2 separate regions of the Homo sapiens genome follow, and region 2 is linked to region 1. Evidence: fine-mapped expression QTL. A gene starts in region 1. The other region holds a variant in brackets. All regions are shown on one strand. Distances are from middle to middle. Region 1 holds the start of PMP2 (peripheral myelin protein 2). Region 2 has its middle 90 kb from the start of ZNF704.

Region 1 (4,406 bases):
AAGTTTTCTCTCTTGGAAATATATGGCTCAATGTTTATGTTTTAAACTCCACTGCTGTTCCTATGTGCAACACAGAGTCAGCTTAAAATTCACACAGCTTTCTTGTAGCAGTCCCACTGAATACAAGGTCTCAGCTCTAGTGTGAGGGTTTGGGAGTCCTTCATTTATTTAGGCAGAAAACCTAAATGTTGAATGCTGTACTCCTTAATAGTGTACAGCTAACAAAAAAAAAAAAGTTTTGAAGGTACAAGTGATATCATCATTTCTGTAAAGTGTTTTGGAAAATAAAATAACATATCCACTAATCAAAAGCTTTTTCTTTCACAGTTGTTTTTTCTATCCCAGTACAATGTACTCCCTCCAGTTACATTCTCTTGGGTTTAGGATTGGGTTAGTTGGTTAGCTGAGGAATTTTCCTATTCACCATTTCTTTCCCACCTTGAGCTATTCAGGCACTGGGATTGTAAATGAAACTTCAGCCCACTGTATATGATTTCACGTGTTTTACTCAGCTTGAACTCTAACTATGTAACTGCAATAGTTATGTCACAGCTATGCGACTGGGTTTCTTGAGCCCTTCTTGCTAGTAATTCTACCTGTTATGAGCAAATTCATCATATTTTTGTTGTTGTAAACAGTGCCAACCTGTTTACTAAATGTATAAAACTTGGTAATATCAGTTGTCTCCAGCCAGAATTAATGCTAAGGTAAAAACAAACAACAAACAAACAACAACAAAAACAAACAAACAAAAAACCTGCTAGGAAAGATATAGCAGTAATCAGAGATTCTCAAGAGCAACACTTATGTTCTAAGTGGATTTACGTTTGTTCCCCTTGGCCAAAGACTGGGGCTTTGATGTAATATAGTAGGCTGGATCTTTTGATTTTTTACCTCTCTTGATTTTTGAGAAGAGAGAGAGTGTTTCTAGCTAATCGTGGTGCTATCAGCATCAGGTGATCTCTGGCCAGGGCCTCCGTGCACGTAGCATGTATGGTATAGTATAATAGAAGCAGGGTAAGATCATGGTTCAGAACCCGGGCACTGGCAGCAATGCTGGGTTCAAACCTGTCCTCTCCTTATTCAACTTTTGGGAGCAATTTACCTAATGTCCCCAAGCTCATTTTTATCATTGGTAAAATGGATATAATAATAGTTCCTAACTCTTGGAATTAGTGATATAATTAAATGAGATCACCCGTATTAAGCACTTAGCACAGTGTCTGGCCCATAGTGAGTTGTCAATATAAATTAGTACTCTTTCTATAGAAAATCCTCTTTATAAAATTGTAGATTCATTTTAAATGACTTAAACACAAATAGTTATAGTATCCAGGAACCTGCTTAGTTCAGACTTTAAGTATTTCTAGCTGAAAATCTTTGTTGTGCTCAAAGAACATGTTATAGTGCTACTTCTTGTTTCATCACATGAATACAATTTCTGTGCTCTGCTGCAATAGACTGACTTCTTTGTCTGCCTACTCTGCCTGCCTGGGATATGTGAACTATGCCAAGCCTTCTTACCTATGAATACTTCCTCACACTGCTCCCCTACGTTTCTCTCCCACAACATATTTGAGACTGTTATCATAATACTTACAGACATTTTCCTCTTTTTCTTCCCTTTCAATAAGAATTCTTAATTGTGCAGACTCAGGATTGAGAGTGACCGACATGCCTAAACACACACACATTCATTCATGATCACAGAATTCATGCAGTCTTTTCCAAAGCATGAAGGGCCTAAGCCTTCTTATAAATGTAAGATTGATCAAAAAATTTTTGAAGATTCAAATAGTAATCTCATTCATTTTATAAATTTTTTTGGAGACAAAGGGAAGTATTATGTGGGGTTTTCTTTTATCCTATTGGGCGGGCAGCTGGCCATTGAAGAGCCATTCATTGCTTAGTCCCGACACTGCCTTTCCCCATTGGGTCTCTGTAAGAGTCACACGCTTTGGGCATCCTTGAAAAGAATCTTCTGAGGCCTCAGCATTTTATCTGAGTCTTCTGAATCCCACTTAGAACTGTGTTGAGCTCTCACCCATCACGATGAGCAACAAATTCCTGGGCACCTGGAAACTTGTCTCTAGTGAGAACTTTGACGATTACATGAAAGCTCTGGGTAAGAAATGCTTTTTGTTGTTCTGCTGAAAAGCTCCTTTTTAAGAAAGCTACATGACATTTTCATCTACTACTTTTAACAGGATACTGGGGAGTTTTGCAAGGCTGCAGTACAATCCTCTTTTAGGATTAATCTTTTGTTGTGTCATTCAGATAATTTATTTGAATTTTATTTGTGGTAATTTTTAATAGAATTAACTTAAATGAGAGAGCTGCTTAAATGCATGGAATGCCCACTGATTTCAAGGGCAATTTCATACCAAGAGAATTTTGGTTGCAGGTCCAGAGGAGAGAAAGCTTAAAAGCATGGTCAACCCATTTTCTGGCTTTTCTGAGAGCTACGTTCATAGCAACTGAAGTGTTCATAAAATAAGGAATTGAATATATTGCAAATCCTAGAAAATCTCAATTTAAAAATTTAAGTTTTAGCTAAACTAACAGTTTTTTCTCTCTACCTCTAGGTTGTCCTTTATTACACAATCATGTAGATACAGAGAGTTTGAAAAACAAAAATACTTCCTAAAATACTGTGTTCATAGTCTAGGGAAGTTACTGAGAGAAAAAGAACTGGAGTTATGGCAGTGAATTCAAACTCAATTTCGCTAACATCAGACGTTTCTGGAGTTGGAGCAGTGAGTGAAGATGGAAAACCGAGTCATTAGTTACAACAACTTTATTTTATACTATTTCTAGAGTATGTCCCATCGATATAAACACAATAGATATGAAGAGTCTTTGGGAATTTTCAGAACTATATAAATACAATAAAGAGTGATGCCAGTGACCCGAGTTTGCTGTGCTTGTCAAAGTGCCTACAGCTTTACTTAACTGTTCAGAAAGCCTGTATAAAATGTTCTATTTTAGATAAAATGAGCAAAGTCATGTCATTGTTGCCTGGAACAGTAAGAGAACTTATGGGGATCAATTCATACTGTGAGATCGGTTAGATTTAAAGACTTCACTTTACAGCTGAGGAAGAAGCCAAATAAAAGAAAGTCTCAGTGAAGGATTTTCTAATTCCACTGTTTTCCAGTTTAGCATGCAAAATAACACCTTGGGATTTGGTAAATATAAATTCTCAGGCTCTGACCCAGAGATTATGATTTAACTTGAGAAACATTGTCCTAAACTGTATAAAATAACAAAAGATTAATCAGAATTTGAAGAAAGAATATAGTTTATAGTTTATTGGCTGTAACTCTTAACTTCTTATTCAGTATGTAAAAGTTTGAGATCTTTTTAACTGGAAAAAGTTATTCAACCATTGAGACTTCCTGGAAAATTAGTTTTTCTTTCATATATTTTTTATTTTACATTTTCCCTTTTCCATATATTTTATAGTCTTGGTAATAATGGTAATAAACTTAAGAGTCTAATTTTGTTTCATTTTTGAAATGTAGAAGAGTTTTTTAAAAAATATTTTATTTCTCTATGATCATTTATAATAGTATAGATCTCAAAGTTAGATGGATAGTTTTTTTCCTACCAGCTAGATATAGAAGCCACAAAATTTCAGAAGTGAAATTCTATCAAAAATATGAGGGGAATACTTCTCTATATCCATAATATGGTATTGAGGGAAAATATCATAGAACAATACGTATATGCTATAGTCTCATCTTTAAAATATATCTATAGTATTTGTACATACAAACTAAAATCTCTAGAATGATTTATGCAAATCTATAATTAGTAATTTTCAATGGGGAATAGGATTGGATGTGATAAAAATGGATGACTTGCAGTAGCTATTTCAGCTGGAAACTTTTACTCTTGAAAATCTGCAGACATTGGCCGGGCGCGGTGGCTCACGCCTGTAATCCCAGCACTTTGGAAGGCCGAGGAGGGCAGATCACGAGGTCAGGAGATCGAGACCATCCTGGCTAACACGGTGAAACCCCGTCTCTACTAAAAATACAAAAAATTAGCCAGGCGTGGTGGCGGCCCCTGTAGTCCCAGCTACTCGGGAGGCTGAGGCAGGAGAATGGAGTGAACCTGGGAGGCGGAGCTTGCAGTGAGCCGAGATTGCTCCATTGCACTCCAACCAGGACGACAGAGCGAGACTCCGTCTCAAAAAGAAAAGAAAAAGAAAAAAAAAAAAGAAAATCTGCAGACTTTACTTTTGCAACAACAAAACCTAAAATGTTTGAGTCCTGGGCATGTATTTCCATTAGGAGTGAAACATGGGAGGAGATGCTTAGTAGTAAGTGATATTACCTGCCATCAACTCACCTGGGGCACCACTGAGCGTAGGATGTGGCCACCACAGTCTCTTTGGCTAT
Region 2 (4,406 bases), 480 kb after region 1:
TGTAATGATAGCAACCTAGAGGCAGATGTGCGTAAGGGCCTGGCCATCTTGGTTTCAAACTCTGGCTTCATTTCTCACCACACGGGCAGAACTTTCCTTTCCCAGAGTATTAATCACAACTCCATTCTGTGTGTGGAGGCTCAGCGCTAAGAAATGTTTGTTCTGAGTCTTTGGAACACAGATCCTGGTTTCCCACCTGGGCTGTCTGGGGAAATGGAAGCTCCAGAGCTCAGCAGTTTCGAAGGTTCCCTGTCACCTGTAGAATGGAGCACTCGCCTCTTCTGTCAGAGGTGGGTGTACTGCCGATTCTAGGACGTAGACATTTACCAAGTGCTCATTAAGAGGACTGGAGAATTCTGATACCCTAGTTAAGGTGAGCCAAACAGTCCAGACTTTATCATTTTTTTTTTAAATGTTTCTCCTTGGGTCCATCTTTCTACCTCTGTGAATACAATCTGCAATACGATTTTTTTCAGTTTTGAAGAGTTATCCAGGACCTTACTGTACTTTTGAGGTCGCCATTTTGAATGTTTGCTCCCATCCTAGATGATTCTTAAAATCTCAAGGCTGGACCTCGGCACTCCAAAGCCAGCTGTCTCCCAGGCATCACATCTGTTTCCACAATGTCTCCCTCGGTATGTCCCAATGTAAATGTGGTTGTTCTGGAGTGGAATCATCTTTCCGAGCTGCCTTGTTTGCTCTTCAGGGCACATTAACTTTGAAATATTCCCCGTAGCATACACTACAATTTCCTGCACACAGCAAGCACTAAATAAATGTTTGGTTTGATTTGAATTCTCCTACCTTTCTATCATCCATAATCTTACAAGCCTGTCTTGAACTAGTGCCTACGAATCTTAGGATTTCATACTTGAACTCTTCCCCCACCGAAAGCTTCTCTGTGACTGTGAATTTCTGAAGAGATGCCAGGGTAACAAGATAGGGATATCCTCCAAGTCAAACCAGCCCAAAAAGCAGTGGCACGGGGAAGAAGGCAGACATCTGACATGCAGATAAACAGCACCACAATCTGGCAGAGTGTCTTCTAAAACAGACACGTCATTCAAAGCAACAGCTTTAAATGTTTAGGCCCAAAGGAAAAAAAATTAATCATCGCAACATCAAAGTAGAAAAGCAAAGTTAACAGGAAAACAAAACAAGCCACAGGAAAACCAAATATTGATTCATTCCATAAATATTTGCTGAGTATTTACTATGTGCCAGGAGCTGAAACAGGGTGAGAGAGAAGAGACAGAACTCCTGCCTCATTGGAGCTCACATTCTAATGGCCTTAGTGCCTACCTTTAAATGTTTGACATACACGTTTAAATTCTCAGGGTATTCAGCATCTCAATGTCTCCACTGATTGTACCAAGTCTCTGGAGATCCACTTTACAGAGAGGCCTCCAGAAAGGCCTCTATGAGCAGGTTACATTTAATGTGAGACTGAAATAATAAGCCAGTGAAAGAAATTCCAGGCATGGTGCACAGCCAACGCCAGGGCTCCAAGCCAGGAAAACCTTGATCTTCTCACACAAGCACACATAAATCAATAACGGGCCAGCTTGCCAGGCCTCCGGCATGTCTCCTTCTCCACCATTCCTGCCCTTGTCCAGCCAGTCCCCATCCTAAGTCACTCTGTAGCACCTCAAATCAACCTTCCGTACTGTTGCCAGTATTATCCATCTAGAAAGCAAGCCTGTTTGGATCAGGAGAAAAGTACAGACTAATCACTAATTATTATCTACTATTTCCCGGGCACTGTTCTAGATGTTGGGGATACAGCAATAAATAAAACAGCTAATGGTTTCTGTTCCAATGAAGCTTACATTCTAGCAGGGGAAGAAAAATAAT[TAATC/C]AAACCAAATTTCAGATCCGAAATGTGATGAGTAAAACAAAATGGAATAAAGTTAATGAAATGATGATAAAATAGAGACTGCCTTGGTTTGTTAGGGCAGGAAGAATGATACCTTTTCTACTGGGTGGTCAGGGAAGGCCTGAATGACTTGGGGCATCAGTATAAAACTTGGGGAGAAAAACATTCCAAGAAGAGAAAATAGCAAGTGCAAAGGCCCCAGGGAGGAAAAGACACTGGTATGTTCCTGGACCACAAAAGAAGGCAGGGTATCTGAACCACAGATAGAGTCACAAAAAAGGGAAATATGAGAGAGAGGCAGGGTCCAGATTCCACAGAGCAGAGTAGATCAAATCAAGAATTATACTGTGATAGCCCAGGCACAGTAGCTCATGCCTGTAATCCCAGCAGTTTGGGAGGCTGAGACGGCCGGATCACTTGATGTCAGGAGTTTGAGACCAGCCTGGCCAACATGGCAAAACCCCGTCTCTACCAAAAGTACAAAAATTAGCCAGCGTGGTGGTGCACGCCTGTAGTCCCAGCTACTGTGGAGGCTGAGGCCGGAGAATGGCTTGAACCCAGGAGGCAGAGGTTGCAGTGAGCCGAGATCACGCCACTGTACTCCAGCCTGGGTGACACAGCAAGACTCCATCTCAAAAAAAAAAAAAAAGAAAAAAAAAAGAATTGTACTGTGATATTAGGAGCAAATAGAGGCCACTGAAAGATTTTAAACAGAAGTTTGGCAAAAATTGGTTTTCCATATGAAACATAACATAATACTTGAGGCCAGGAGTTTCAGACCAGCTTGGGCAACACAGTGAGACACTGTGTACAAAAATCATTTTTAAAAAATTAGCTGGGCATGGTGGCACACACCTGTAATCCCAGCTACTTGGGAGGCTGAGGTAGAAGAATCACTTGAGCCCAGGAAGTTGAGGCTGCAATGAGCTATGATTCTGTCACCGCACTCCAGCCTGGAGAACAGAGCAAGACCCTGTCTCAAAACAAAACACATACGAAAAGAAAATAACAAAAAAGAACATAAAATTGAATTCCCAACTTACACCATAAATGAAAATAAACTTCAGATGGACGAAAGAGAGAATAATAAGAAACAAACATACTAGCTACAATAATATAAGCTTACTATTTATGAGTTACCATTCTACAGGCATCTCACTGTATTAGCTCATTTAATCTTCAAAACAACTTTAATGAGTTAAATAATTATTCTCATGGTAATCAATGATATCACACTGAAGCATAGAATAGTTAACAAATTTGTCCAGATTTTAGTGGCAAAGATGAGATTTGAACTCAGGTAATTTTATTTCCAAGCCTGAGTTCTTAAAATTCTGCTGTGGGAGATATTTATTATGGCTTTATTATGTATGGTTTAGAACTGAAATATGCAATGCACAAAAGCACAAATCATAGAGGAAAACACTGATCTGTTTGACTCCATAAATTTATAAAATGTCTTTATAAAGGTTTAAGTGTATGCATCAGTGTAAGAAGCAACATATCTAAGGACAGCAATATCTATTTTGTTTACTTCCATATTCTCATTTACCTACAAGTGTGCCTGCCCATAATAGGGCCTCATTAATATATGTTGAAGGGATGGATGGTGGATAAACAGATAGATGAATAGCATGTAGGTTTACTCACAGCCAACCTACCAGGCATTGTACTGATGACACAAAGGTGGATCAGACAGACCCCCCCCGCCAACCCCTCTGGAACTCACAGCCTTGTAGGCGATGCAGGCAACATTTGTACATATGATGGCAAGGAGTTAAGGGGCTTGCATCCGAGGCACTTGAAGTTCGCAAGGGGGGATGCTGAGATCAGAGGCTGGGAGATCAGTTCAGATGGGCCAATGAAGGCTTGACCAGGGCAGAGGAAATGGGGAGAAAAAATGCTAATTTTAGACATCAGTAGGTGGTGTAACAAAGGGATCTGGCTACTCATAAGATGTACAGAATTAGGGGCATAGAGATGAAAAGACAACTCTTGGGTCTCTGGATAGAAGATGATGATATTAATGAACTACAGATATAGAAGGAGAAGGTTGAAGAGAGGTAGGCAGTGATTTCAGATTGGACTCAGAATGTACATCTTTCCATTTCTACAACTAGTTATAGAATATTTACCTATTTTCAATTGATTTCATAACTATTCAATAATATTGCTTTGAGCTTCTTGGTAAAAAATATTTTGCAATATCATGATGGCAGTGTTCAAGCAAACTAAATATGGCCTGAGAAGGACTCTGTACTCTATATTTGAGTCCTTGTGGATGAACTGTAACTTAGCCTAATAGTCAGACAAAATTGAAAACCCAGCTTAGTAGTATGCACCTGTTACAATGGCTGAGCGCTGGCCAATCCCAGCTGCCATACTTCAACCACTCATAGACTGCTGAATGTTCAAACTGCGTTCAAAGAAGGCAAACGCCGAGCTGTAACTAATTTCACTGTTTCTGTACCTCATTTCTGATTCCTGTACGCCATTTTACCTTTTTTGTCTATAAATGTGTTCTGACCAT

Evidence for each region.
Region 2: its variant is fine-mapped to the expression of PMP2 in tibial nerve (GTEx, PIP 0.94).

The regions. Positions count from the first base shown.
Region 1 is chr8:81,445,033-81,449,438 of GRCh38, reverse strand. It overlaps PMP2 (peripheral myelin protein 2), which reads left to right and starts at 2,000. Exons shown (of 4, transcript NM_002677.5): 1 at 2,000-2,125. The coding sequence starts at 2,053.
Region 2 is chr8:80,962,278-80,966,683 of GRCh38, reverse strand. No RefSeq gene overlaps it. Among named protein-coding and RNA genes, the nearest start is that of ZNF704, 90 kb to the right of the region's middle. The variant TAATC/C (reference allele first, on the strand shown) is at 1,855.